Linked DNA regions of Homo sapiens. The protein of the gene in region 7 binds, or shares a complex with, the protein of the main gene of each other region. Each region holds a gene or a part of one and is shown on either strand. Other genes may lie near its edges. The genes, in order: SRRM1, PPIL2, CWC22, GPKOW, BUD13, SNW1 and CWC15.

Region 1 (4,104 bases), on a different chromosome or scaffold from region 7:
AACTCCTGACCTCAAGCAATCCTCCTGCCTGAGCCTCCCAAAGTGTTGGGATTACAGGCACAAGCCACTGTGCCCAGCCAAGATGCCTTCCTGCTATTACAAAAATGGGTGTGACTACTCTCAAAAAGAATTTATGAAGACTTAAAAAATTCCTGTAAGACCTTGTTGTCATATCTGAACATTATCTGAAGTGAGACAAGAATTTTTAAATGTTTAATGAAAAGCCTCAAAAAGTTCTACAATGATTTTCAAATCTTGAGATTCTCCCAAGAAAACCAACAGTTAAAGGAAATTGGGAGCTGCTACTGAGTAGAACAAGCTCAGTAAAGTAAACCTCTGTGTGCTACACGAGCTCCACAATCTAAAATACACACCCTCCACACCCACACTCACTCCCTCACACTCAACTTCAGAGACTTCATCAACATGAAAGCTTTTAAGCAACCACAATAGGTGGGTTCAGAAAAGTAAAAGATGATAAATGATTAAGAAATAAGATCTCATGAAACTTTCACAAAGATATTTGGTCTAGAAAAGAAGAATGACTGCCCAACAGGTTAAAGGTTCTTTATGTAGAGCATAATCTTCACAATAGCACAGGGGATTTAAACTACCCATGAAAAAAAGCAGACCGCCACAAATAGTAAAAATGATTAAATACAAAGACGAGGATTCTTTCCAAAGAGCTAGAAAGAAAAAAAGGCATTTCTATACCTCAAGTAGTAGGAGAGCAGTGGGTATCCTATGAATTATCCAATTGTCTTTTACCAATAACATAGAAATATGGTAACTACCTTTTGTAAGCCTGCTGTATTAGACACACTATTAACACAGTAGTATCACATCCCTTTCTCCCTGTTCCATTTCACAAGAGAGGAAACCTGAGGCTTAAAAAGAAGCAACTTCACCTCAGTCACAAAGACAATTTAAGTGAGCTAAGATGTGAATCCAAGAATCTATTTTTAGGCCATGGGTTTTAATCTCAACAACTAACTCTGCTTATAGTATCTATCCATTGCTACAACTAAAATCATAAGTATATTCACATATAAACATATATATACCATAAATTAACCTAAAACACCACTTGAGAACATCCCAATAAGAAATAAACCTACAGACAATTTGATCCTCTCAGGATCCTGATACCTGTTTTGTGTGATTAAAGCAATTGCCATGGAATGTTTGACTCAGAATACAGATACATCTCATTTAACAGACACTCACATTCAGAATTCTGTAATGGTTTATTCCAAGGGGCAGTAATTAGAGAACCAGTGATCTAACACAGTAATCGCATCTTTGCTAAAGAAGTCAAAATGAAGAATTTACCAGTATGCCTTTTCAATGAACAGACTTTTCCCTTTCTCTCTCTTTTTTTTTTTTTGAGACAGAGTTTCGCTCTTGTTGCCTAGGCTGGAGTGCAATGGCATGATCTCGGCTCACTGCAACCTCCGCCTCCCGGGTTCAAGGGATTCTCCTGCCTCAGCCACCTGAGTAGCTGGGATTACAGGCATGCGCCAACCACGCCCGGCTAATTTTGTATTTTTAGTAGAGACAGGGTTTCTCCATGTTGGTCACGCGGGTCTTGAACTCCCAACCTCGGGTGATCCACCCACCTCTGCCTCCCAAAGTGCTGGGATTACAGGCGTGAGCCACCGCGCCCAGCGACTTTTCTTAAAATTTCTACGTAATAAGCCATTTGGACAAATCACTGGATTGGGTAAAGAATGGCTATCACTCAATTAGATATCAGGAATCATGACAGTGCAAATAGCAAACTATACTTAATACTTATATTTTAACAAATTCAAAGAAATAAAAATATTTTAAAATTGTTAACTATTTGAGGCTCTTTTTCTAAGTCCATATTCTCTATTTTTAAGTGTTACTTAATCCTCAATTTCTGCAAAGATATTATGGGCACGTCGTTAAAAAGTGCATGTCCAAGTTACCACACCTTAGAGAACTGGGTTCCCAAGCTTGCTTTGGAAGCTGATTGTTTGGATACATTTTCCCCTAAGAAACATTAAAAATGTGGTTATGCTTACAAGATAGTTGGCAAAAGCCTACTCATTATATAATACAAGTGAATTTAACATTATTTCCATTCTCCCCCAGTGGAAATACACATCTGGAGTTGCATCCTGATTCAATTTCTCACTAATTACTCAGCTAAAGTAGTCTTTATTAATACATTTGTATTAGCTGGGTGTGGTGGCATGTGCCTGTAATCCCAGCTACTCGTGAGGCTGAGGCAGGAGAATTGCTTGAACCTGGGAGGCAGAGGTTGCAGTGAGCCAAGACTGCACCATTGCACTCCAGCCTGGGCGACAGAGCAAGACTCCGTCTCCAAAAAAAAAAAAAAAAAAATTTATACCATCAAACAACTATCATTTATATACTCCTACTCTGGTTTAATACAATTGAATCACAGCATTATTAATATTATAACAGCACTTCAGATTTCTATTTTTCTAGATGAGACTTTACACCATTTACTTTATGTTAATGTTGTTTTAAGTATTCAAGGGACAAAATCATTCTAGCATGAAGTCAGAAATCGTAGAAGGCAACTTTAAAACCACAATTTTAAATTTACTCCAACAGTCCTATTAATTATTAATCTTAGACCTGCCCAAAAGATCACTTATAAAGATAAGTTACTCTGTGACCAACAATAGTAAAATAACCATTTAAGTGTCCAGATAGCACAATGTATGTGGCCAAGCTAATCTAAATAAATCAAAATTACCACACCGTCACCACCAGTATTGATCATGTTAACATACTTCGCTGACTGTGCCACTGATTTCAAGCACTATTTTATGTACTAAGATAATGCCAATTTATGAAATGTCAGTAATTACAAATGTTTCCCCTAAGATCCCTTCAGATGACTGTATACTGTATTCCAAATAATTAACCTGTAAGTTCCCCAAAACACTTTTCCTGCCTCCCTCCCACTCCATTTGCCCACTATCAAGAGCAGAGCCCTAAAGCCCTGATTAGTGGCCACTAGGGAAAATATTAACTGTAATATCTATTACATTTCAATGATGTTACTGTTCTAAGCAGCAGAAACTGCAAAGTAATTTCTGAAATCATACTACCAGATAGAGAAGCTAAAGAATTTCAACCCTGCCCTCCATTTCTCACCTTTAGCAATCAAAGAAGAGTTCTGGGGTAGGAAAGTTGTGAAAAGTATTCACTATTTAACTGGGAATGACAACTCAAGTTTTATTCCTAGTTGGTTGACCTTGACCAAGTCAACTAACCTGAAAATCTGTTTCTTGATGACAACTGTTAAGGTCTTTTCTAGCTCTGAAATTTCATCACAGAGGGCTGGGATCAGTTTAATATAAAAGGTTGTCTGGGCCGGGTGTGGTGGCTCACACTTGTAATCCCAGGGGTTGGAGGCTGCAGTGAGCTATGACTGGGCCACTGCACTCCAGCCCGAGTGACAGAGTGAGATGCTGGCTCTATTTAGCGGGGTGGTGGGGAGAGGTTATTTCCAAGTAGGTCAAACCAATATTCAGCTCCAGTGGTCACAGGGGAGACTGACTACACTGCCTGTAGTGCCTCTCTTTGGGTAGGTTGTTTGAACACGGAAGCCCTGTCCCAAAACCCACAGAAATACTTATTTTCACCATGGCTTACTTCTTTCCTATGTACATATCCACTCTTGTCTTGTTTGCAAAAAGTATATGCCAAAACACAAGAAATTAGCATCTGTGCAGATGCTTTTTAAAAGTACCTAATAATTCTTAACAATCAACCTATTTTAACAAGGATTGGTCCCTCTGTTCAGGTACTTTTGCAACTCTTAGGCTATATGATATAAATAGAAAAAAATCATCACTTGATGTGTTTTTGCAAAGTAACAGGTAAAAACACTTGTTTTTTTCCCTGGAGAGCTTTGTGGCTCCAGACAAAGAATAAATATTCAGAAGTACAAACTTTACAGGAAAAGACAAAATAGGCCAGGGCCATGGGCATCAGATTTGGACATGGTAACTGAAAATGGACTGAAATTTTCCCAATGCTGAAAAGCAGTATGGTACATGAGGTTATGAAAACAGTGATCCCGAAGCCCCTCTCTCA
Region 2 (4,104 bases), on a different chromosome or scaffold from region 7:
GGGAGGACTAGGGGCTCAGGTGACAGTGGGAGCCCCTGACAGACCAATAAAGTGGGAGTCGGGGAGCACACCCACCCCCTGCCACTTTTGGGTCACATGGCAGGTGGCTACAGAGGCCAAGGTGGCTACCTGCTTCATGTGTGGTCTCCGGGACCATCGCGGTGGAGGTGAAGGAAGCGCTGACCTTCCCTGTGGAATAGTGGGCCTGCCAAGGAAACCAGGGTGGCACCTCAGCAGTGCCATGGGAGGCAGTTGGGTGGGGACGTGTCGCTTGCCTAGAAGCCAACCACACGCCACCCCTGCCCCCCAGGCCCTGCTTGGTGCCTCTCCTCCAGGAGGGCCTCCCCAACCAGCAGGAGGAAGAAGCCAAGGCTAGGCCAAGCCAGGGTCCCCTGGCCTCCACTGGATCCCGACTCTTATGATATCAGGTGAAACCCTGGAGATAAAATACCACACAGGACTGGCCACCTCAGGGTTAGGAGTGTATGGCTGACTTCTCATTTATTTTTATTTTAATTTTTTTATGAGACAAGGTCTTGCTCTGTACCCAGGCTGGAGTGCAGTGGTGTGTGATCCTGGTGCACTGCAGCCTCCAACTCCTGGGCTCAAGTGACCCTCCGACCTCAGCCTCCTGAGTAGCTGGGACGACAGGCGCATGCCACCACGCCTGGCTGATTTTTTGTAGAGATAAGGTCTCACTATGTTGTCTAACCTAGTCTTGATCTCCTGGCCTCAAGCAATCCTCCTGCCTCAGCCTCCCAAAATGCTGGGATTACAGGTGTGAGCCACCACGCCTGGCCTCATTTCTTTTTAAAAGTTTCAAACTTTCTACACTAAACACATTACATATTTAATCAGGGGTCGGGGAAAAGCCCCAATAAATGTTATTTTTTATCATAGAGGAAGAAAAAGGGGTTTCTCCCATCAGAAGAAAATACAAGCCAGGCACAGTGGCTCACACCTGTAATTCCAGCACTTTCGGAGGCCAAGGCAGGAGGCTCTCACTTGAAGCCAGGAATTCAAGACCAGCTTAGACAACATAGCAAGATCCTGTTTCCAAAAGAAAAAAAAAAGTAATATATCAAAGTGCTAAGGGCAGTGTGTTAGACGGAGTGACACACTGGACAACAAGCTTTCTTTTTCAAATTTTCCAGAATTTGAATAATTCTTTAAGAAGGAGAACTTCAGAGCTACCTGCCCATGTCTCTGCCCTCCCCCTAGCTCCAGATCCCCATGCTCTGCCTGACAGGAGGAAGAAGCAAACACGACAGCCCCAGACAGGTGGCACCGTGCAGTCCCAGGCATGCCATCCACGTCAGCACCGCAGCAGACCATGAAACGCCCCAACTCTCCCTGGCATGGCTTTGGGCCCCAGTGCACATCGGGCCCTGCCCTCCCAGCCACCACAGAACCACATGTGCCCGCTCAACGTGCCTGCCCTGGCTACTGAGCTCAGGCTGGGACCACAGCACAAGGCAGACCTTCTGTGGCAGGGATCTCCCCTACATGCCCCCACACACCCCTTGGTTCTTCAACGACCAGTGTGGACATCAGCCCCTCCCCTTCTGCCTTCTCAGATTCTATCTGCCTCAGGGCAGCCCCAGGGCTGTGCACTCAGAGCCATCAGGGGCACCACAGCTCTGGGGGATCCTGGCTGCCTCCCTGCCGTGTATCCCAGGCCCCCATGAGCCCCTTTCCCAGGACCACTCCAAGAGGCCATGAGATGGGCAGGAAGACGGGGCTTGGGCTTGGCCGAGTGCCCTCCGCCACTCACAGCGTTCAGCTTGTCCACTTTCTTCTTCTCCGGGGCCTTCATGGTGGCTGCCAGAATCTCGTCCCCTTTGAACTCCTTGTAGAGCTCCTGCAGGGTCTCTCGGGTCTCGGCATTTGTATTTTTCAGATAATAAGACGGGTCCTGTTTGGCCTTCTCTTCATCTACAAAACAGTAGCATGGCCCTGAGCCGCCGAGCCCCCAGTAGCCTCCCCACACACGTGCTGGGGACACAGATCTAGAATAGCCCAGGGCCGTCCAGCCATGGCGCAGGCACCGTGCCACTGCCAGCCACAGAATGCCACAGTGCCCCGCTACAGGCCTGAAGGTCTCCCCAGGCAGTTCACAAGGGTCTCAGGATGGACTTCAGGTTGATTTGTATATTTTATATTTATCTGTATATTCTAATCTTTTTAGAGTATACGCTTTGCTTTTTTTTTCTTTTTTTTTTTTTTTTTTTTTGTGGAGATGGAGTCTCGCTCTATCGTCCAGGCTGGAGTGCAGTGGTGCAATCTCGGCTCACTGCAAGTTCTGCCTCCCAGGTTCACGCCATTCTCCTGCCTCAGCCTCCTGAGTAGCTGGGACTACAGGCGCCCGCCACCACGCCCGGCTAATTTTTTTGTGTTACAATCTTGTAACCTCGTGATCCGCCTGCCTCAGCCTCCCAAAGTGCTGGGATTACAGGCGTGACCCACCGCGCCCAGCCTTTTGAGACAGGGTCTAGCTCTGTCGCCCCAGCTAGAAAGCGGTTGCAAGATCTCAGCTCACTGTAGCCTCCACCTCCTGGGCTCAATCGATTCTCCTGCCTCAGCCCCCCAAGTAGCTGGGGCTACAGGCGCACCAACTACACCCAGCTAATTTTTCTATTTTTTGTAGAGACAGGGTGTCCCCATGTTGCCCAGGCTGGTCTCGAACTCTTGAGCTCAAGCAATCCGCCTGCCTTGGCCTCCCAAAGTGCTGGGGTTACAGGCATAAGCCACCACACCCAGTTGCTTTGCTTCTGTAATTTTAAAGGTTATTTTTATTTAAAATAATAGAAGTGTTTGGGGGTCTTTCCAGATGTGAAATCACCCATTCTTGCCGACTCAGGAGGGTGCCTGCTGCCTACTGGGCCTTGGACAGCAGCCCACCCTGTGGAGAGGGGCCGGCATCCCTGTGCAGAGAGCACAGACACGGCCCAGCCCCAACCCTGACCTCAGGCTCTCCTGACTCAAATCTTCCCCAGTTCACGTGCTCAGCCTACCTAAAACCCGTTCAAACAATGCTCACAAAGTGCCCAGGCCACTGCTCTGCAGCACAAGGCCGAGTGACCTCTGAACATGAGTCCTGCTGGCTCCTCCAAGGCTGCAGGACAGCCACCAGAGGCCAGGGAAACAGGAGGACCCCATCACCCCACCACCTGCCCACTGACAGCACCGGCCAGTCTGCAGGGAGCAGGGGAACCTGAGCAGGTGTGCTGGCAGGGCAGCAAGTCTATCCCGCCCATTGTTTCTGAGGCTGCAGTTGGCTCAGATTCTCTGAACACTAGTTCAGAAAATGCAGGGCCTGTCTGGGCTGGGACCCCCTGACCTCCAGGAAAGCGGGGGCTTTACCCAGGGAGCACTGTCCCAATTTCATCCAAAAGCCCCCTCGCCTAGCCCAGCCCCTAGGTGTACATACCTGGGTCTATTATTTTCATGTTATTCTTCACATGATAGAAGTTAGAGACATTGAACTTGTCCAAATTGGTGGGGTCCTGTGGCAAAAAGAGAATGCCCAGCAGAGTGAACCCAGCCTACGGCCAAATGGCAGCCACATGCAGCAAAGGACGGCCAGCTGTCAGAGGTGTGGAAGAGGCCAGGGCTACACTGAGGTTGGGGGAGTCAAGCAGGGCATGAGGGAGGAGGTGGTCTGCCCCAGGCAGGGCAGCAAACAGGGGCAGGGGCAGGGACGGGGACGCAGCCTCGCTAGCTGCTGGCTGAGCTGTGACCTTCCTCCAGGCACATGGCTAACGAGCATTCATTGCTGTTAGGGAGCTATCGGACCGGAACGTGGGCAGCCGTGGGCCGACCTCTGGTTAGAATGGGACAAGCCACAGAGGTGATTGACTCAGCAGGCCACGCTCCAGCCAGCACCTGCTTTTCTAAGTCAGTGTTTTTCATTAATTCACTTGGGGTTCTCTGACACCTGCAGGGACCCTGTGCCAGATACAGGGTCTTTGCAGAGCTCATGCCAGCTCCTGCCCTCGAGGCGCTGAAGCAGAGCCAGGCCTGCAGAGTGGCTATTCAGATGCCTCAGGTGGCTTTGAGGACAGATATGAGGGGCCCTGACGTGGGGGTAGGGCCCTGTAGAGG
Region 3 (4,104 bases), on a different chromosome or scaffold from region 7:
CGTAAAATAACGATTTTCATAAAAATATGTAATTTATGTTAACATATACTAGGTTTGCTATTATTCTGAAATAATTTAATAAATATTCTTTTATATTGTTTTAACCTTTAATATAGTAAATAGCAATAGATACAACCCACATAAAAAGAAGCTCTTTGGAGTTGCCAATAATTTTCAAGAGTGTAAAGGGATCCTGAGACGAAAGAATTTGAGAACTGCTATAATAAAAGAAAGTACTACTTTCCAGGCATTGGCCAATTGCCTAGATGCTAAAGAAATGGATAGAGAATTCTCAAGTTTAAAAAAGAAAGAAATCAAATCAGGTGTATCTAAGAATTTCACAAAAAACATTTGGCATTTTTCAGGGAGACTGTAGGAAAAGAGGTTCATAAGAAAAGAAGGCAAAATGGATCTATGGAGTTCTCTGTTTGGAAATGAAATTATAACAGAAAAAAAGAATCTGGCATATTACAGTGAAAAGCTCCTAGGAAATCAGCATCTAAGAAGAGAAACTCATTATTATAACAGGTTTTTAGGATAATGCAGAGGAATGGAAGATTTCTCCCAATTTTACTTTTCATTTCAACCTTCTACTTCTAAGCACTACTGAACAATGGAATGCAGACAGAGACAGAGTTCTAGGTTTCTGCTTTCTCTGTATATGAGACTACATAAGGCTGGTCTTTATGTTAAAAGCAAACAAATGACAAAAACTAAAATTACATTTTGCCCAATGGTGCTGTTAGCCTGATAAAAGATTTTGCAAAGCTAACCAACTCTTTACATTTCTATTATAATCAGAGAGCTTTTAATACAAACTTTTGGGGTTTAATACAAAGGTAAATTTTATTGCTTCCACAGCAATAAATACTTCTCCAGTAAAATTACAACTCAAGAGAAATAAGCCCATAAAATTATTATGTAAGTAGGCCTGAGTGTTAGCTTTAGGAGGAAAATAATACAAATGTGAAAATAGTAACTAATAATAGCTATCATTGTAGGTGATAATACACAACACTGTGTTTTATATATCCTTCCATAGAAAGGTAACATTTAGTCTTCCAACAAACAAGTAACTTGCTACAGGTCACTCAGCTAGTAATGTCAAAGATAAATTACACATCAAAACCTGTCCAAAGTTAGTACTTACAATATACCAATGATGTACAAATGAAAATGATCAATTTATTTTATCAGAGAGGCACCAATACTATGATTCATCCTACCAGAAGGATATTAACCTGACCTCAAGAAACAATAAAGTATAGCACTTTACAATAAAGTATACCACTTAATTGAATACTAAACTGGGTGGCACAGAATGTAAATGGTAGAGAAGCTAAATAAAGGCCACCACTAATCTATGAATATTTCTTAAGATGGGTGAGACGTAAGTGTTGCATAGTTTAGAGGGAAAGAGGAAAGAACAATGGGGTAAGTAATTCAGAATGAAGTAAAAAACCCTGGGCAAGCACCAGGAAAAAAATAATGCCCGAGGAAACAGCTAAGAGAATAACTTTATAAGAGCAGCGATTCATTAGGTGGGGATCTCTAAATATTTGCTATCAGTATTACGTAACTACTTAAATTGCTTCTACTTATCCAAACTAAATTATTTTATAAAATTTTACATACCTTTCTTAATAGCTTTGTACTTCTCTTCATTCTCCATAAAATTAGGATCCATCTTGAAAACATCTAAAAAAAATGTAAAAGTTAATGTTTATTTTCTATATTTACATTTGTTGGTAAGCCTCTTTCCAACTAACATGCCCCGGACTTACTAAGAACATCTTCTGGATTATAGTCATCCTCCAGAGGGAGCATATGAGTGAATTGATCATCTTCTTCCACCAAATCAAGACCTTCTAGGATAATGGGGTGGTCCTTGAATCCATCTTTCCGTACAGCAAACATCACTTCAATCATATATTGAACTCTTTTGTCAATTTCAGACTCATGCAGAATGTTTCGAAGGCGTTCAAATATAGCTAAAAGTTAACAGAAAGAAAAGACAATAAAATAAGCAATAAATATAATAAAAACTTAACATCAAACTATGAATGTACACTTACCATTGATTCCTCTTGGTGACACTTGTGTTAATTTGAGGCCACATTCCTTAAGAAAACCAATAGCTACTTCAACGCTATCATCTGTTGGTCTTTCCAGGAGCAAAGTGAGCATCTCTAAGCATAATACTTCGTGTGCCTTAAATAAAATACATATACAAGGAAGAAACAAAATGCTTTTACATACATTAAATTATTTTTATAATTTCTAAAAATTAGTAAATCTGTTTACAATAATTATATTGCACATATGATGGGCAAAGTTTTATAAAGCACATGGAAATACTCCAAATATGGGATACAATTTTTCTATCACTTTTATTATCTGTCTACTAAGAATTTTCAGATGACTGTTTCAAAAATCTTAATTTTCTATGCTGAATACAACTATTTGAATTATCTTCAGAAGAAATATTCTTAGCCATTATGTACGGAAAGTGTCATAGATAAAATATGTTAAAAATCATATACTACTTTCTAATAAGGTAATTATTTTCATAATTACTACATAAGAAATAGTAATATGATTTATAATACCCTTCTCCATGATCACAATTCTTTATATACATTTCCCAATTCATTCTATCAGCAACTCTATTAGACACAAATAGTCCTTAAGTTACATGAATACTAATTTTATCACAAAATATCTTAACAACTTCTGGAACACAACAGTTTTGAATAGTCTATCTTTTTTTAAAAAATTAAATCAAACTATTACTGGCCACGTTCAAAAACTGACATTTATAAACAATGCCAGGAAGAGTGGGAATAAAATTCTATTGAGAAGTTTGCTAAGAGAAGAAAACGAACAACAAAGAATGTTTAAAACACCATACATATGCCTTTCTAAAGTCAGACAGTGATTTAAGATGGTGAGGAAAGAAGTCTAAATCTCAACTCAGGAGATATCTTCTTCCAGCTGTGCACAACATCAAAGACACCCACTACTTCTTTTTACTAGGGGAGGAGGGGTGTCAAACAGTCTTAGGTCAGTGACAAGAAAATACTGCCCTGTACCACAGCTGGAAGATGCAAAAAATTTATCATATCGAGTGTTTCATGGCAATGCCAAAAATCTCTAGTCTAAGTGTAATACACATTTAAAAACGGAAATATATCTCTGGTTACAGATGTGAAATTAAGTTTCCATGGTCTTAAGTAGCAAGTTATCACTGTAATAATATGATGACTAATTAGGTCAAAATCTAAAAGATTTGTAAGAGTGAAAGAATTTTCATGTAAATAAGAATCAAAATATTTAATATTAGTGAAATAAGACTAAGCATGACTTTAAAATTCTTCCTGTTATACATGATATTAAATTGGAAATGATAATATATATCTGAAGGAAACTTTTGAGTATGAGCAAGGACAATTTTAGCATTTTCATGGTTAAATAAAAGCTAAATCAAAACCATCAAATAATGAATATAAAATAAACACAAACTGAATAACAGCATGATAAAATTACCTGCATTTGAAACAGATTAAAATCGATCAACTCTATTCTATCAAGTGATTCTAAAAATATATGACTATACCTGTGTGGTTGCAAGGAATAGAGGTTTTTGTAGAATATCAGATATTTATTAGATTCTCATGAACAGCAGGGAATGAAGTGGAGGAGATACCAACTTTATTGTTTTATAAAAATGAAGGGAATGGTTCTTCAAAGGAATGGTTTGCAGTCAAGTAACCATGTACAGTATTAAGTCAGATTAATTTGATAAATATCTAAAGTGTTTTGATCAGCATCAAAGTGTTATATTAAAGAATATTAAATATGGCCAGGCGTGGTGGCTCACACCTGTAATCTCAACACTTTGGGAGGCCGAGGCTGGTGGATCACGAGTTCAGGAGATCGAGACCATCCTGGCTAACATGGTGAAACCCCGTCTCTACTAAAAATACAAAAAAAACTAGCCGGGCGTGGTGGCAGGTGCCCGTAGTCCCAGCTACTCGGGAGGCTGAGGCAGGAGAATGGTGTGAACCCAGGAGGCAGAGCTTGCAGTGAGCCAAGATTGTGCCA
Region 4 (4,104 bases), on a different chromosome or scaffold from region 7:
AAAAGGAAGAGAATGCCATATGCCACAAGTCCCTGAAGATTAAATGCTTAAAGGATCCAAGGAAGCCCCACAGTCAGCTGAGGGAGACACAGGAACCAGACCTGGTCCCACTTCTCAGGGGTCAGAGTCTGGTTGGGGAGACAGAGGAAGCAGGCCTCTTAGAGGTAAGGGGTTGACATCTTGGTCCTAGGAATGTGGGTGGAGTCCACAACCCCTACCTGACTTCTTCCCCTCAACACTTTAGGTGGAAGGCCTTGATCCTGACAATGTTCGGGCCATGGTTCGTCTGGCTGTGGGGAGCCGGGTGGTGACTGTTAGTGAGTACTACCTGCGGCCTGTCTCCCAGCAGGAGTTTGACAAGAACACCTTGGATCTCAGTGAGTGAGCCTCTTGTAGAGCTAGGGGAGTTGGCAACGCATTCCTAGGGGTGGCAGGGCCTGGCTAATGGGGTGGTTTTAGATCTGCAGCAGGGAGGGGCAGCAGTGTGCCTGGCAGATATGACTTCCAATCAGAGGTCAGGAGGTGAGAATGGACATAAGTGACTTACTCCATTTGATTGGAGAAAGGTCGATGTCATACCCCTGGGTCTGTAGCCTGTCTGAGTGAGAAGAAACAGGTGCAGAAACCAATTCCTACCTTCGAGATCTTTGTCCATTTGGGGTGATGAACCTCTCTTTTACTAGGGAGTGAGAACTGCTAGGATTAGGGTGTGACCAAGAAGGAAGGAATTCTAGGCAGACAGAACAGCACAGGCGAAGGCGTTTCGGTAGGACGGGGCAGTTTGGCAAATGGGTACAGACAGAGCTCTCTGGGAATCTCTAGTCCACACTAGGTGAGCATTGTTGTTGTGGGCTAGGTTGGCTGCGGGAGGGTTCCTGAAGGAAGCTGAAATGGTTGAGAGGTGGGGGAGAGGCATTCTACTAGCAAATGCATGAGGGGTGAGAGGGGCACTTTGGCAGGTGGGAGGTGGCTCTAGGCTGAGACATGGCCTTGGAAGGAAAGGGCAGTGAGACACTGAGGCTCTGTCCTGGTTCTCCTCATAACCTCTTGAACAGGCCAGATGAGCAAAACTTCCTTCCCCAGGGCAACAGAACGGAACTGCCTCATCACGGAAGACCCTCTGGAATCAAGAACTCTACATCCAGCAGGACAACTCAGAGAGGAAGCGGAAACACCTTCCAGACCGGTGGGACTCTGAGCATGCGGGAGGGGTCAAGAAGGCAGGGCTGTGGGTAGGCTCGAGCAGCCAGGGAAGGCTTCCAAGGCAAGGCGGGCTCATAGAAGGAACGGGGAACTGCATTGTGGGTGGGTTTCATAGCATAGGCAAAGGGAGGGCAACTGGAAAGTGCATCTGATGAAGAGCTAAGCCTGGTGCTGGCACCTTCTCCACAGACAGGATGGGCCTGCAGCCAAGAGTGAGAAAGCAGCCCCCAGAAGTCAGCACTGGTTGCACAGGGACCTGCGTGTGCGGTTTGTGGACAACATGTACAAAGGAGGCCAATATTACAACACCAAGGTGGGAACCCTGCAGCCTGAGTCCCCCTCCCTCTCCTAGGGACTGGGCCCCCCTACCTCTCTAAAATCTCACATCCCCCTGACCTGTATCCCCAGATGATAATTGAAGATGTCCTAAGCCCAGATACCTGTGTATGTCGGACAGATGAAGGCCGAGTCCTGGAAGGTGAGTTTGAGCGATGGCAGCTGGAGGTTGATCAAGAAGAGTGTTTTAGGCCCAGAGCCTGGCCCAGGCAAAGCTGGGAGGTTTGGCAGAGTTCAGGTATTTTGCAAGGCCTAGCATCCTCTTACAGAACATTAGACACTTCCATGATGGTGGTTGGTTATCTTGAGCCCCACTCTCCCAGTCTGTCAAGTTTTCTTTTTTTTCTTTTTTTTTTTTTTTGAGACAGAGTCTCACTCTGTCACCCAGGCTGGAGTGCAGTGGCGTGATCTCAGCTCACTGCAACCTCCACTTCCCAGGTTCAAGCGATTTTCCTGCCTCAGCCTCCCGAGTAGCTGGGATTACAGGCAAGCGTCACCACACCTGGCTAATTTTTGTGTTTTTAGTAGAGACAGGGTTTCACCATGTTGACCATGCTGGTCTTGGAACTCCTGACCTTAAGTGATCCTCCCACCTCGGCCTCCCAAAGTGCTGGGATTACAAGCGTGAGCCACCGCGCTCGGCCTCCGGTCTGTCAAATTAGCATGGAATTTACTATTTCTTCCTCTTGTGATTGGTGCCTTAGTGAAGGAATGTGTATTGAGCTCTCAGTGCAGGGCAGGGGTTAAAACATGCCCACAATAAAAGGTGCCTGTTGTTATCACCACCACCCTTTATTACAGTGATTTTTGTAAACTACTCCTTAGGCTACCTCATCTGTGAAATGGATGTGGCGGGACTCCCATCTGTCAACAGGGTGTAGAGTGGCTCCAGGGAATACAGGAAAGGCCCTTCTTTTTTTTTTTTTTTTTTTTTTTTTTTTTTTTGAAACAGAGTCACTCTGTCACCCAGGCTGGAGTGCAGTGACGCAATCTTGGCTCACTGCAACCTCCGCCTCCCGGGTTCAAGCTATTCTTCTGCCTCAGCCTCCTGAGTAGCTGGAACTACAGGTGCCCGCTACCACACCCAGCTAATTTTGGTATTTTTAATAGAGACAGGTTTTCACCATATTGGCCAAGCTGGTCTTGAACCCCTTACCTCGTGATCCTCCTGCCTCAGCCTCCCAAAGTGCTGGGATTACAGGCATGAGCCACCACACCCAGCTGAAAGGCCCTTCTTTTTTTTTTTTTTCTTTTTTTTTTTTTGAGATTGGGTCTCATTTTATCACCTATGCTGGAGTGCAGTGGCACCATCATGGATCACTGCCACCTCAAATTCCTGGTTTCAAGCCATCCTCTCACCTCAGCCTCCTGAGTAGCTGGGACTGCAGGCACTGACCACCATGCCTGGCTAATTTTAAAATTTTTTGTAGGCTGGGCGCGGTGGCTCATGCCTGTAATCCCAGCACTTTGGGAGACCGAGGAGGGTGGATCACCTGAGGTCAGGAGTTTGAGACCAGCCTGACCAACATGTCAAAACCCCATCTCTACTAAAAATACAAAATTAGCCAAACGCAGTAGTGGGTGCCTGTAATCCCAGCTACTCAGGAGGCTGAGGCAGGAGAATCGTTTGAACCCAGGAGGCGGAGGTTGCAGTGAGCCAAGACCACACCATTGCACTCCAGCCTGGGCAACAAGAGCCAAACTCAGTCTCAAAAAACAAAACAAAAAAATCTGTAGAGATGAGGTCTGACCATCTTGCCCAGGTTGGTCTCGAACTCCTGGGCTCAAGCGATCCTCCCAACTTAGCCTCCCAAAGTGCTGGGACTACAGGTGTGAGCCACCACGCCTGGCCAGGAAAGGCCCTTCTGACAGGACGCTGGTTGGGCTGGTCCTTGCTGTGGGCCTCACTCCCCTCTCCCTTATCCATAGGCCTGAGGGAAGACATGCTGGAGACCCTGGTTCCCAAGGCAGAGGGTGACCGTGTGATGGTGGTGCTGGGCCCACAGACTGGAAGGGTGAGTCTCAGACCTGGCAGTAGAGGTTTGTGGGTCGTTCAGGGCCTGTCCCAGGGTCTAGGCTTGCCTTGCTGATTCCACTTCACCTCTGTTCCAGGTGGGACATTTGCTGAGCCGGGACAGAGCACGGAGCCGGGCTTTGGTGCAACTGCCAAGAGAAAATCAGGTGGTGGAGCTTCACTACGATGCCATCTGCCAGTACATGGGCCCTAGTGACACAGATGATGACTGACCCATGGGACTCCTCCCATCCCCCAGGCTGGTACCAGTTCTGTACCATATGAGAAAGTTGCCTTCAGAAGGTGGGAAGATCATTGTTCCATCCTCTACTTCTGGTGCAGTCCTGGGACAAGGACAAGGGAAAGGGATGGGTGAACCAGTAGGGAAGCTAGAAACAAACCCAATATTTACCAAAATTTAGGGTATAATAAAAACCATTTCAAGTACTTAATAGAAAGATGAAATCATAAGTGGTATGATGAGCTGCGAGTTAAGGTGGGAACTGAGTTGACTGAGGTGGGAACCATTTCACTTTTCAGCCTTGCTTTTC
Region 5 (4,104 bases), about 22 Mb from region 7:
AAGGATCTGGAGAATCATGACGGGCCCTCCTTGGGGGTGAAGTGTCTGAGGAGTCATGACGGATCCTCCTGGGAGGAGATGTGTCTGAGTCATGACGAGCCCCTCTGAGGGGAGAAGGATCCGGGGTGTCATGACGGGCCCTCCTAGGAGATGGATCCGGGGTGTCATGACGGTCCTTCCTAGGAGATGGATCTGGGGTACCATGACGGACCCTCCTAGGAGATGAATCCGGGGTATCGTGACGAAAATGTCTGTTTGAGGGTAGGTCTTCGTTGTGGCCTAAACACAAATAACAAAGAGTCAGATTCCCACAAATGCTCTGTCCCTCTGTCCACCCCCACACCCAGTTTCAAAAGATGCTCCAGTAGCACATACCTCAGAACTGCTCAGAAAGCCCAAAAGGCCTGCACAGTTTTCTTGCTTAGGGGCAGCAAACCACCACTCATGAATATCTTAAGAATAACCCCTCCGCCTACCAAGTCATAAATTTGCAAAGCATTTTCAGCACATTTTTCATATTATACCCTTTAAGGTAAGCAGGGCAGGTACCCTTGTATTACAGCATGAAAACAGAGGCCACAGCCTCTGTTTTCAGCTGAGGAGCTGAGTGATTTCTTACCTAAGGTCACAGCTCCTAAAATGAAGACACAGGCTAGAATCCAAGTCTTCTAACTCCCAGTCCAATGTTCTTTCTAAAACCTCATTTGTGCAGAGTTCCCAGCTAGTGGCTCCTACTGATATTTTGCCTAGATACTTTATAGTTTGTACTCACTCTTCTTTCAATAGGTAAATTGACTAAAACGGTGAATATCAAAATAAAATGCTGTTAACTATTTAATCCATTTCACTGTGCTCTTTCTTAGAGAGGGGAAAAATCACCATAAAAAAGAAAGGAGCAAGTAATTACCAATCACCTACTGTGTGCCAGTGTTTCATAGAGATTACCTGATTCAATTCTCACAACAAGCCTAGGACATAAATACTGTCATTTCATTTATAGATGAGGAAGTTGATACTCAGAAAGATTAACTTGCCAAAGTCATATTGCTAATAAGTGGTAGAGGAATATTTAAATCCAGCTCTATTTGACTCCAGAGTCCATGTGCAATCTTTAAAATATGTAAAGCTTTAAAGTTAAAATACATAGTTTGAGACCTTCCATATTCAAAGGCACCACAGAATGAAATATCTATAGCAACTGGAACAGTTTCAAAATCCAGTTCTTCCTCTACCTCTATTTCTTGTCATTGAGCTCCACAGCCCAAATACAAATAAAAGCTGGGTAGGAACTGATGAATACTTGTTAAATGGATGAATTAAACCAAGTCAACTCCTTTACTTTGGGGAACAGCCCTATCTGATTGGAATCCACTCCACAGAGAAAAGTATGATGTCTGTGGGGGGCCTAACAGTAAATCTGAAGGAAGCAAGGGTCAGAGATTGGTAAGCGTACTTCCAATAACAAATTGGGATGGGGGAGTGAAAGCAAGGCAGAAGAAAAGGAGTGAGTGAGTGTGAGTGTGACTGTGTGTGTGTGTGACTGACCTTCTAAACATTCAGATACACAAGAAAAGGCACCGTGTGTATGTGTGTGTCTGTGTGTCTTCCTAGACAAACAGACATGGAGACCAAAAGATTCTCTTTGGAAAAGAATTCTGATTAGGCTACAAAAATCAAATACCTACTAGCAATTAAACAATTCTACAAATATTTATTAAAGGTAGCTCCTTGTGCTAGATAGGGGAATATCATGGCAAATAAGACTAGTCTATGCTCAAACAGATGTGACAAACAAATGCTTTTTATCCAATTCTCAAGGACTCAAATTTTTTTAAAGAGAGTTAAATTAAGATTATTAGCTTAGGAAGAGTCCAAAGTGGGCAAGTGGAGGGTAATGCACTATAAAACACCAATACTTAAGGAAAGAAGAGAGAAATTTACTAACACAAACAGAACAAAATACACTGGTCCTTGACCCCCCAGAAATGAGTTGCTTCATTGTGGAAGAGGATAGTGGTAGCTAAAGTCCCCAAATTCTGCTCCTGTTTCTTGTAAACTCCTCCCAAAGTCTTGCCTATACACCAAGTGCTCTCCTATTCTGAGTCAAAGAGGAATGGGTGCTCAAAGGCCTCCAAATTAGTCACCAACCTCAGTAATCCTAATGCCAAAATATAAGAGAAAGAGGAATATCTGGTCTATAAGTTCCTATGTCTTACTACCTCTGAAGAAGTCCAACTTCCTTTTTCCTGCTTTATTTTTCAGGATCAATGACATGCTAAAACAAACTATGCATTCCTCTAAAGAAAAGTATAGAAAAGGAAAAAAGATCTCCCCTACTAATGGAAATTTAGATTTATCTATTGTTGGAACTCACCTCCCAGAAGCTTCCATTTGGCACTGGAACGAAAGGCCTCCATCTGCTTTACCTCTTCTGGCCGCTCATCCACAAACTCTGCCACCTGTGAGAGTAAAGATTTCCTATCTTAGGAAATCCACAGGATCCAGCCAAGAAGCACTGTCTCAAGAACCTGAAGTTACAACCATTCCGATTCCTAACACAAGGGCGTACATATATCCAAAATGGTCATGAAGAAGTAAGTAGGGGTCTTCAGTTATGTTTGCTCCATAAACATCTGATTGTCACTGTATTGGTTTAATTGTAGATCCTTCTCTAATTAATCAATTACCCTGCAAAGGTTAATTTTTTTCATTACAAACCTTTTTATTAACCTGCTAGGTACACAACAGCCACTTGTAAACTAACAACTAAATTCCTTTTACACTTTTACTTCTACATTAACAGTGGAAACATAGGTGGCTCCCCCCATCATGCCTAGCACTAATCAAGGACTTTGGGTTTCTATGAATCCTTTCTTGTTGTAGGTAGTCACAGTGATAGGTTTTCTTGAATACAACCAAAAAGAGCCACTGAGATGTACACAGAATCATTAATCTTTAAGAGCTAAAACCACATTTCATATCTTCTAAACTTCTGAACAAATCAGAATCTTCTCTATAGTATTCCTAATAAGTGGTCACTCGCCCAATCCCTTCCTGACAAGGAACTCATTATCTTACAACACAGTCCACTGCATTTTTCAAAAATGTTAGAAAGTTCTTAGTTTTACTAGTACCGTATCTGCCTTCCTATAACTTCTTTGAATTCATTCTAGTTCTGACCTGTGATGTAAGTCCACATGACAAACTTTCAAGATTGCTGGCATAATAAATCCTAGTTACAGAGTAGCAACTATGTGCAAGGTACTGTGTTTTGTGGTTTACTCATATAATCTAACTCGATTCTCACAATAATCCTGTAAAGAAAGGCTCCACACTACTGAATAGCAAACTGATTCGGAGAAGTTCAGTAACTTTCTCAATGTCACAAGCTAACAAGTGGCAGAACTGGAATTTAAATCCAGGTCATAATAGCCCTCTACTTCTCCCAAAATCCTACCATCATTCTTCATATAACCCAGTTTTGAGATCTCTCACTGAGCGTTAAAAGCACAGGTTTCGGGCAAGATGAATTAAGATCTAAACCCCAGCTCGGCCACTTAGCATTTGTGTAACCTTTGGTAAATTATTCTAAGCCTCAATTTCCTCATTTGTAAAAGTGGGATTCAAAGGATTGCTATAAGGATTGAATGAGATAATTCACGTAAGCTTAGCCATGCTTGGTACATGATAAATGCCCAATAAATGACACCTATTAATTATTCCTGTGCTGCCACTGCTATCGTAATCATCATAATCGTTTTACCATTATTACTGGTGGTGGTGGTGATCTTGCAGTTACAAAAATGAATTCAGTAATCAAGATCTGTTTTAACCAATGCAGAGAGCAGTGGCACTAAAGCCTCCTTTGTTTAGGTTTTTGGGCCATCATAAAAGCAAGACAATATTATAAAAGAAAATGGCCAGGTGCGGTGGCTCATTCCTGTAATCCTAGCACTTTGGGAGGCTGAGGCGGGTGGATTGCTTGAGCCCAGGAGTTCATGACCAGCCTAGGCAACACGGTGAAACCCCGTCTCTACCAAAAACACAAAAATTAGCTGGGCATGGTGGCAGGCGCCTGTAATCCCAGCTATTTGGGAGGCTGAG
Region 6 (4,104 bases), on a different chromosome or scaffold from region 7:
TTGTTTTTGCCTGGCTTCTTTCACTCAGCATATTGTTTTGAGATTCATCCATGTTATTGTGTGTATTAGTAGCCTATTCCTTTTCACTTACTTGAACCTTGGAGGCTCCATTGGATCTTTCTGCATTTCTACCATCCGAATAACCCTCTGTTTAGCTCCAGAGTTGAATGCCACTCCTTGCTGAGATGGTGTGTATCTGAAGAAAGCAGATAAAAACTAAAGGTGTAATTAGTTCAAGCTTTCAGTAGGTATTTTCCTTCTATTACAATCTTAAGCTAGACTACATTTTCAATTCCTTTCGCAAAGTATTAACAGAAAATTAACAAAATATTTAGACAAAGCAGACAGCAAGAGGGATAAAAGAACATAAATTATGAGTTACAGTCAAAATATAAACTTGAGTGGTATTAGTTTGCAAATAACCCATCCTCATATGTTTTCCAACATGGAAGGTGCCGTGTTCAGTTTCACAGATAAGCAGTCTAGAAAATAGTACCTATTTAGTATGCCTGCATCTGAGGAAAAAACACTCATAATAATCCCAGCAGGCAACTTACGGTTAGCAGTTTTTGATTAATCATAGGTTATAAAACAGAGAAAAGAATAATGACAGCAGCCCTACCAGCTCTGAATTTTTCCTCAATATCTGTATGTGATTCAATTCTCTATGCAGATTTAGTCAAGTAAAACGCCTCAAAATTTAGAAGTATTATAAAGATATCTATTACTTATAAATGGAAAACTATAAATAATAATTGTGATTTAGGTCATATACCACAAGTAACTGTTAATTTCTAAAAACAAAAAATATAATTTGAAAATAGCATAGGGCCAGGCCGGGTGGCTCATGCCTGTAATCCCAGCACATTGGGAGGCCGAGGTGGGCAGATCATCTGAGGTCAGGAGTTTGAGACCAGCCTTGGCCAACGTGGTGAAACCCTGTCTCTACTAAAAATACAAAAATTAGCTGAGCATGGTGGTGCAAGCCTGTAATCCCAGCTACTCAGGAGGTTGAGGCAGGAGAATCGCTTGAACCCAGGAGGCAGAGGTTGCAGTGAGCCAAGATTGTGCCACTGCATTCCAGCCTGGGTGACAGAGTGAGACTCCATCTCAAAAAAAAAAAAAAAAAAAGAAAATAGCATAGGCTGGGCACAGTGGCTCACGCCTATAATCCCAGCACTTTGGGACCTGAGGAGGATGGATCATTTGAGTTCAGGAGTTCGAGACCAGCCTGGCCAACATGGTGAAACCCTGTCTCTACTAAAAAAAATACAAAAATTAGCCAGGTATGGTGGTGGGCACCTGTAATCCCAGCTACTCAGGAGGCTGAGGCAGAAGAATCTCTTGGGAGGCAGAGGTTACAGTGAGCCAAGATCACACCACTGCACTCCAGCCTGGGCAACAGAGCAAGATTCTGTCCCCCACCCCAAAAAAAAGCATAAAAAGAGGCCAAGTCTGGTGGCTCAAGTCTGTAATCTCAGCACTTTGGGATGACAAGGCAGGAGGACTGCTTGAGCCCAGGAGTTCGAAAACAGCCTGAGCATCACAGCGAGACCCTGTCTCTACAAAAAATTAAAATATTAGCCAGGCATGGTGGCATCAAGGCAGGAGGATCACCTGAGCCCAGGAGGTGGGGGCTGCAGTGAGCTGTGTTGGTGTCACCGTACTCCAGCCTGGGCAACACAGAAACTTTATCTCAGAAAACAAACAAAAACCAAAGTGGACACCTTAAAAAATTCTGCTTTCAATTGTCTGCAAAGACAGTAGACAGGCTTTGAGTCATTATTGAAAACAATGCATTTATAATGGTTGCTAAGTGGGTTAGTGAAAGAATACCATGACCCCCCAAGCTGAATCAAGTTCAGAATGAAACTAAGTCTTCTAGGCATGATTCATACCGGATATACTGAGCAGGAGCCAATTTGTCAGCTGCTCGAACTGGCATGGCTGCGGCGACCTTCTGTGATACAGATTTTTCTAAGGCTACTCTTGTCTTTTCTGTTATCTGAAATAGGAAATATCACATTGAGAGTTTGGAAGTTAATCAGGATGTAAATAGTCATCGAATATATCAATTCCCAGTTACCTCTTTAATAGCTTCTTCATCGGGCCTTTGCAGGTCTGGATCATCTGCATTCATAACCTCCTTTGGAACCAGGTCAGTGTATTTGCTATAAATGACCTAAAATGTTCAAACACAAGCAGGCTTAAGAAAAGCAAACAACGAAAAGAAACCTCATTAGCCATTTCAGATGTCAACATGCCCTCTCAGCACACTTAAAAATTTAGGACACTCAGATTTTCTCTTTTAGATTTTAAAACCAAGGAAGCTTAAAATATATAAACAAATTGCTACCCTGGCTGTAAGTTAGTAATTTTCCCTTGACCTCATGCATTTAAATTGTTTGAGATCTTCTAATCAAGTTAGTATCCAAATAAACCATGCCAACAAAATCATGCATTGATGATCACTATTTTTGAGGCCCACTAAAACTTGAAATTAATGATAATACAAATTGCCTATAGCACCATTAACCTGGATTACAAACTCATCAGAATTTAAGTCAGGTTACCAAATAATTTCCAAATTCACTGGGCCTGAAAAATTTTATTGACCTCATCCTATTTATAACGCTTCTCTTTTCTGCCATCAACTCTATTCACAGACTAAGAAAATAAACATGTGCCACAGTTAAAAAACCCAGAATGCTTTCTTCCATGAGAAGACAAAAGAAAAAAAAAAAGAAAAAGAAAAATATATTCTATATATACAACTTATTTTATATCCATTATCCAAATTGAGGCCTGTTATATGACTTCTACTATGCCCAACATGGTTTCTATTAGGCTGACACTGATGTGGTAGGCTCTTAACAAATAGAATACTGGTTACTTTCAGGTCCATCTATACTTCTTAAATATTTTCATAACAATTTACATGGCATATTTTAAAGTAAAAAAGAGATACAGAGGGGCCGGGCGCGGTGGCTCACGCCTGTAATCCCAGCACTTTGGGAGGCTGAGGTGGCTGGATCATGTGGTCAGGAGATCGAAACCATACTAGCTAACATGGTGAAACCCCGTCTCTACTAAAAATACAAAAAATTAGCCAGTTGTGGTGGCAGGCGCCTGTAGTCCCAGCTACTCGGGAGGCTGAGGCAGGAGAATGGCTTTAACCCGGGAGGAAGAGCTTGCAGTAAGCCAAGATTGCGTCACTGCACTCCAGCCTGGGTGACAGAGCAAGACACTGTATATTAAAAAAAAAAAAAAAAAAAAAAAGAGAGAGATACAGAAAATTCAATAAATAATAGGCATTCTACCTTTAATGCTTTAGTCAGAAATTCTTTGAGGTACATAAAAAGAAAGGACAACTTATAAATATCAAAGAAAATCAAATTCCTAGGCACTTGAGATCTCCAGAATTTTTTTTTGTAGAACTGTTTACCACTACAAGCCAAAGTCTTATATTAATAAGTCTATCATACATCATTCATTAAAAAAGTTTAAAGGAAATGCATGCTATTTCTAATTTTCTACTCCAAACAGAGCAAAAAAGTGTGAGCCACTTTATGGCTTATGCAACTTGACCTGACTTTGCCTATGCCTTCAATCTCCCCTTACAACTCTCACTCTCTCACTCATTATGCTTCAGTCACACTAGCTCATCTTCTGTTTCTTGAACATAACATACTTTTCCCCAATTCTAGGCCTTTACAGAGTTCTGTTTATCATTCTTCAAGTAAGCTCTCAATCTGTGTGTCTCAGATCAAAGGTCCTCCATTATCGAGGCTTCTTCTGATTGCCTTAGTAGTAACCCCTCCCCACCCAATCATTTGCTCCATAGCACTGTTTACTGTGATCAAGACTGTTCACAGCATGAAATTATCTACTTTACATGGTTATTATCTGTCTCCCGTATTAAAACAATAAAAACGGGGAGGGCACGGTGGCTCACGCCTGTAATCCCAGCACTTTGGGAGGCCGAGGTGGGTGGATCACCTGAGGTCAGGATTTCAAGACCAGCCTGACCAACATGGTGAAACCCCGTCTCTCCCAAAAACAGAAAAATTAACCAGGCATGGTGGTGGGTGCCTGTAATCTCAG
Region 7 (4,104 bases):
TGGGGAAGCCCACACACAATTTAGACAGGGGAAAAGAAAAAAAAAACTCATAAAAAAAGTCAGAATGATCCTTTACGTTTTACAGTCTTTAATTAAGCACATAAAACTGTACTATTTAATATATTTCTCCATGAACTTTTTGTGAAATTCAGATCGCAGTGTGTCATTTACAAATCTTTTGTCTTTCTTCTGGTCATCTACACCTTTTGCACAGTTCTTGAAGACAACGTCATCATCCCACCTGAGGAAAAAAAAGCAAACAGAACGTCTGAAAATGTTTGTATCAGGAGACAAGAATACTACATGCACTGCAAGGCTTAGTCAGTTACACAGAAAGATGCTCAACATGTGTATCATCTGATGCAGCAATTACACTCAAAAGAATAATGTCATCCTTAATATATAATCTTGCTTTCTTATAGCAAGAATGGCAATTCCTACTTAGAACATTAAAACATTCTTATTATTTCTCCAGTAAAAGAAACTTTTGAGTTAAAAAATAGAAATATATAGATTTTAATTGCATAAATATTTAATGTTTTTAGGTCTAATAGAAAGAAGCAGCACCGAGGACTACCCTAATATTAGTGTAGGCATCTGTACATGATAGTAGCCAATCAATTTAATGTAGTTTATGTGGTTTTGGGGATTGTAGATATTCCTCTTTTATCAGTTAATGTTTAGTAATCATCTACTGTAATATCCACATTATAGGCCAACAAAAGGAGAAGGAATCATTGGGGTATAATAATTAAGGCTCAGATATGGCCCACATATACATTAACCAAGGAGAAGTACCAGCTGAAGAGCTCAGAGCAGAACTCTGGTTGGATTCCATAATGTATAAGCACGAAAAAAAAACACCCATAAATAAGTTATAAAATACATGTGTTATAGAAAATAAAGAGCATGATTTCAGAATATCACCTAGCATATAAAACACAGGCCCATATACATAATATTGATACCCTCACAAATATATATATAACACAAGCCCATATGTGTGTGTTTATGTGTGCATGCGCTTACACGTCAGGAGAAACTGCACATGGGAACAAATGTGGGAAAGTGCACAATGAGCAACAAACGTGGGCACCTTTGGAAAACAGTGCAGTAAAGTCATCACTGATGCAGTACACAGAAGCATAACAAGCTGAGCAGATCAATATGACTGGGATATAAGACATGTTTCTATCTCCAATTCCATTTACATTCAAAAAAGGCAAAAGAACAAACTATATAGCTTTATTTTTGTATATAATCAGTACAGTTTTTTCTGTATCCAGTCTTTCCTCAACTCCAAACAGGCTTTTTGTCCCTCCTTCCCAACACCAAAATGCTCTTTCCTGACATTAGTATTTGTCCTCGATGATCACTCCTCTCCTCCTGAAACACTTTGTTTCACTTCTTTCAGTTCTCCTCCCTTCCCAACTGGCTGCTCCTTGTTAGCCTAGACTTTTTCATTCAAAATTAACTCAATCAATATTTATCAGGCACTTGTATAATGTTTAGAGGCTGGCTAGATGATTAGAACAGGTACTGGTAACTAATAATCTACCTAACCTCTAAACATACCAAGCTCAGTTCTGACTTCTCCTCTCTAGCTATACCCTTCCCTAGGTGACTTCATCCTGTCTTATGGCTTTAAAAAGTTTATCTGAGCTGATAACTTCCAAATCTACTATCTCCAGCTTGGACTAATTCCCGAACTGTATCAGGAGTACTGCATCACTCCAGAGGGGAGAGCAGTCAGCAGTACTGCATCACTCCAGAGGGGAAAGCGGTCAGCAGTACTACATCACTCCAAAGGGGAGGGCAGGTAGCAGTAATGCATCACTCCAGAGGGGAAAGCATTCAGCAGTACTGCATCACTCCAGAGAGGAGGGCAGGTAGCAGTACTGCATCACTCCAGAAGGGAAAGCAGTCAGCAGTACTGCATCACTCCAGATGGCAGATAACAGCAGTAGAGGTGGTGAAAAATAACGAATATGGTTTAAAAATTAAGCACTGTGGTTCCTTGACGAATGCATATAAAATAACAACCAATCTTCCTCCCTCAGCATTTCCTGTAAGCTTTTCTGTTTTATTTTATATATCACCATCTGAAGGATTTACAGTATTTACAACTTATATTTTCTCCCTTTTCAGCCCTCCTTTTTTACCCCTCCAAACACACACACACTGTACAGAATTTAAAAAGCAGGCCTAGTACTACAATCCTTAGAAATGCCTGCTTGCAAGGCTGGCCCCTGGCTGGCATTTGAAAATTTGGATCTAAGAAATCTTCTGTCACTGTGCCTATAATTTACAAATAATGTGGTTTACACTGAACACCTACTATCCTTTTAGGAGTCTGGACTTTGGTATGTGCTAAGCAAAAGCTGCGTACATGACTAGCCACTCCCAGTAAAAACCTTGGGCGCGGGATCTTTAATGGGCTTCCCTGGGCAGAAGCACTGCACACGTTGCTGCACTGTCCTTGCTGGGGGAAACAATGTGCTGTGTGACCACTCATGGAAGGGACAGAGCATAGTGACACCTGCACATGGATTCCTCTATTCTCTGTGTGTGTCTTTTCCCTTTATAATCTAGCTGTGTGTCTTTATTACCTTAGCCAAGCATATTAACTATACACCAAGTCCCCTGAGTTCTTCTAGTGAGTGTCTGAATGTGAGAGGCCATCTTGAGGACCCTTGATATGCACACCTAAAATGTAAGGGCCTCAGTTTATTACTCTGTCCCTAGTGCTTACATCATTATCTAGTACACAGCTGGTTATTGCAACTATCTATTGAAAATAAGTTTATTTTCTTTCATTTGGCTTCTTCCATTATTCCTAATTGAACAGAGAAGAGTATCAGTGAATGGACGGTGGACTTTTAGAAGCTTTTTACAATGCACCTTGCTATCCAACTTATAATCTGCATGCCTGTGTGTATACACATACACATATACACACACACACACACACACACACACACACACACACACACACTCCATTACTCCGTTACTGTATAGTACCTTCTTTTAACTTTGAAGTTGGCCTGAGGCTGGGATGGGCCAGTGAGATTAAGGAGAGGGTTTCCGCTCAGAATGTTTTCCATACGAATCCTCTCTTCTTCAGCTTTTTGTTCTTGTTCCTGTCAATGATAAAGGAAGATTAACACTTACTTATTTTAACTCTGGGTTCAATTTTTTTTATATTAGCTCACTGAAAAAAAAAACAAAACTGATCATTAGGATTTTATGGCAACAAAAGCATCAAGGCAGGCTTTTTTTTTTTTTTTTTGGTTTTTGAGGCATACTAGAAAAGTCTCCCTCATCAAAATAAAATAATTTAGCATTTTTATTATAAATATTTCATGGTTGATATCATACAGTAATTAGTCTCTTCCAACTGTGAAATGCTACAGATCCATATTTAAATCTATTTTCTTTCTTGAAGTACATGTCAAATTAATTGCTTTAAATTTTAAGCATATATCAATAAGCATATTCTAATAATTTAAGAACATATTGAATATCAAAAAGACACATTTAGCAAAACTATTACCTTCATTTTAAAGGGTCATACCTAACTGTGATTAATTTTAATCTTATTTTGAATTACTAATAATGTAAACTTGTGTCTCTAGGTTTGGTGACAAGTTATGAATGAAGAAGTAACTCCTAAAATAGGACAAACTACCATATACAAAATTATATCCAGTTAACATGAATTTCTACTAATTTACCTGAGGTTGATCTATTTTGTTTTTATTGTCTTACTGAGTTTTTCTTTTTTTTTTTTTTGAGACGGAGTCTCACTGTTGCCCAGGCTGGAGTGCAATGGCATGATCTCAGCTCACTGCAACCTCCACCTCCCAGGTTCAAGTGATTCTCCTGCCTCAGCCTCTGGCACGTGCCATCATGCCCGGCTAATTTTTGTATTTTTAGTAGAGACGTCATTTCACCATGTTGGCCAGGCTGGTCTCGAACTCCTGACCTCGTGATCCGTTCACCTCGGCCTCCCAAAGTGCTGAGATTACAGGCGTGAGCCACCGTGCCCGGCCTCAGTTTCTATTTTTATACCTCCCATCCTTTATCAGTTACAACACTGTCTTT

Evidence for each region.
Region 1: CWC15 (region 7) and SRRM1 share a complex: the UniProt entries of both Homo sapiens proteins name them as parts of the minor spliceosome.
Region 2: CWC15 (region 7) and PPIL2 share a complex: the UniProt entries of both Homo sapiens proteins name them as parts of the minor spliceosome.
Region 3: CWC15 (region 7) and CWC22 share a complex: the UniProt entries of both Homo sapiens proteins name them as parts of the minor spliceosome.
Region 4: CWC15 (region 7) and GPKOW share a complex: the UniProt entries of both Homo sapiens proteins name them as parts of the minor spliceosome.
Region 5: CWC15 (region 7) and BUD13 share a complex: the UniProt entries of both Homo sapiens proteins name them as parts of the minor spliceosome.
Region 6: CWC15 (region 7) and SNW1 share a complex: the UniProt entries of both Homo sapiens proteins name them as parts of the minor spliceosome.

The regions. Positions count from the first base shown.
Region 1 is NC_000001.11:24,656,478-24,660,581, reverse strand, and holds part of SRRM1 (serine/arginine repetitive matrix protein 1), read right to left. Parts: intron 1-4,104. UniProt on the Homo sapiens protein: Part of pre- and post-splicing multiprotein mRNP complexes. As a component of the minor spliceosome, involved in the splicing of U12-type introns in pre-mRNAs. Involved in numerous pre-mRNA processing events.
Region 2 is NC_000022.11:21,682,584-21,686,687, reverse strand, and holds part of PPIL2 (RING-type E3 ubiquitin-protein ligase PPIL2), read right to left. Parts: intron 3,507-4,104; coding exon 3,431-3,506; intron 1,936-3,430; coding exon 1,775-1,935; intron 206-1,774; coding exon 130-205; intron 1-129. UniProt on the Homo sapiens protein: Has a ubiquitin-protein ligase activity acting as an E3 ubiquitin protein ligase or as an ubiquitin-ubiquitin ligase promoting elongation of ubiquitin chains on substrates.
Region 3 is NC_000002.12:179,968,866-179,972,969, forward strand, and holds part of CWC22 (pre-mRNA-splicing factor CWC22 homolog), read right to left. Parts: intron 2,212-4,104; coding exon 2,076-2,211; intron 1,992-2,075; coding exon 1,785-1,991; intron 1,699-1,784; coding exon 1,636-1,698; intron 1-1,635. UniProt on the Homo sapiens protein: Required for pre-mRNA splicing as component of the spliceosome. As a component of the minor spliceosome, involved in the splicing of U12-type introns in pre-mRNAs. Promotes exon-junction complex (EJC) assembly.
Region 4 is NC_000023.11:49,113,303-49,117,406, reverse strand, and holds the end of GPKOW (G-patch domain and KOW motifs-containing protein), read left to right. Parts: intron 1-244; coding exon 245-377; intron 378-1,083; coding exon 1,084-1,186; intron 1,187-1,392; coding exon 1,393-1,516; intron 1,517-1,611; coding exon 1,612-1,681; intron 1,682-3,468; coding exon 3,469-3,554; intron 3,555-3,651; coding exon 3,652-3,786; 3' UTR 3,787-4,000; downstream 4,001-4,104. UniProt on the Homo sapiens protein: RNA-binding protein involved in pre-mRNA splicing. As a component of the minor spliceosome, involved in the splicing of U12-type introns in pre-mRNAs.
Region 5 is NC_000011.10:116,762,988-116,767,091, forward strand, and holds part of BUD13 (BUD13 homolog), read right to left. Parts: intron 2,460-4,104; coding exon 2,375-2,459; intron 280-2,374; coding exon 1-279. UniProt on the Homo sapiens protein: Involved in pre-mRNA splicing as component of the activated spliceosome. As a component of the minor spliceosome, involved in the splicing of U12-type introns in pre-mRNAs.
Region 6 is NC_000014.9:77,736,880-77,740,983, forward strand, and holds part of SNW1 (SNW domain-containing protein 1), read right to left. Parts: intron 2,183-4,104; coding exon 2,087-2,182; intron 2,006-2,086; coding exon 1,899-2,005; intron 197-1,898; coding exon 92-196; intron 1-91. UniProt on the Homo sapiens protein: Involved in pre-mRNA splicing as component of the spliceosome. As a component of the minor spliceosome, involved in the splicing of U12-type introns in pre-mRNAs.
Region 7 is NC_000011.10:94,963,274-94,967,377, forward strand, and holds part of CWC15 (spliceosome-associated protein CWC15 homolog), read right to left. Parts: intron 3,141-4,104; coding exon 3,022-3,140; intron 242-3,021; coding exon 112-241; 3' UTR 1-111. UniProt on the Homo sapiens protein: Involved in pre-mRNA splicing as component of the spliceosome. Component of the PRP19-CDC5L complex that forms an integral part of the spliceosome and is required for activating pre-mRNA splicing.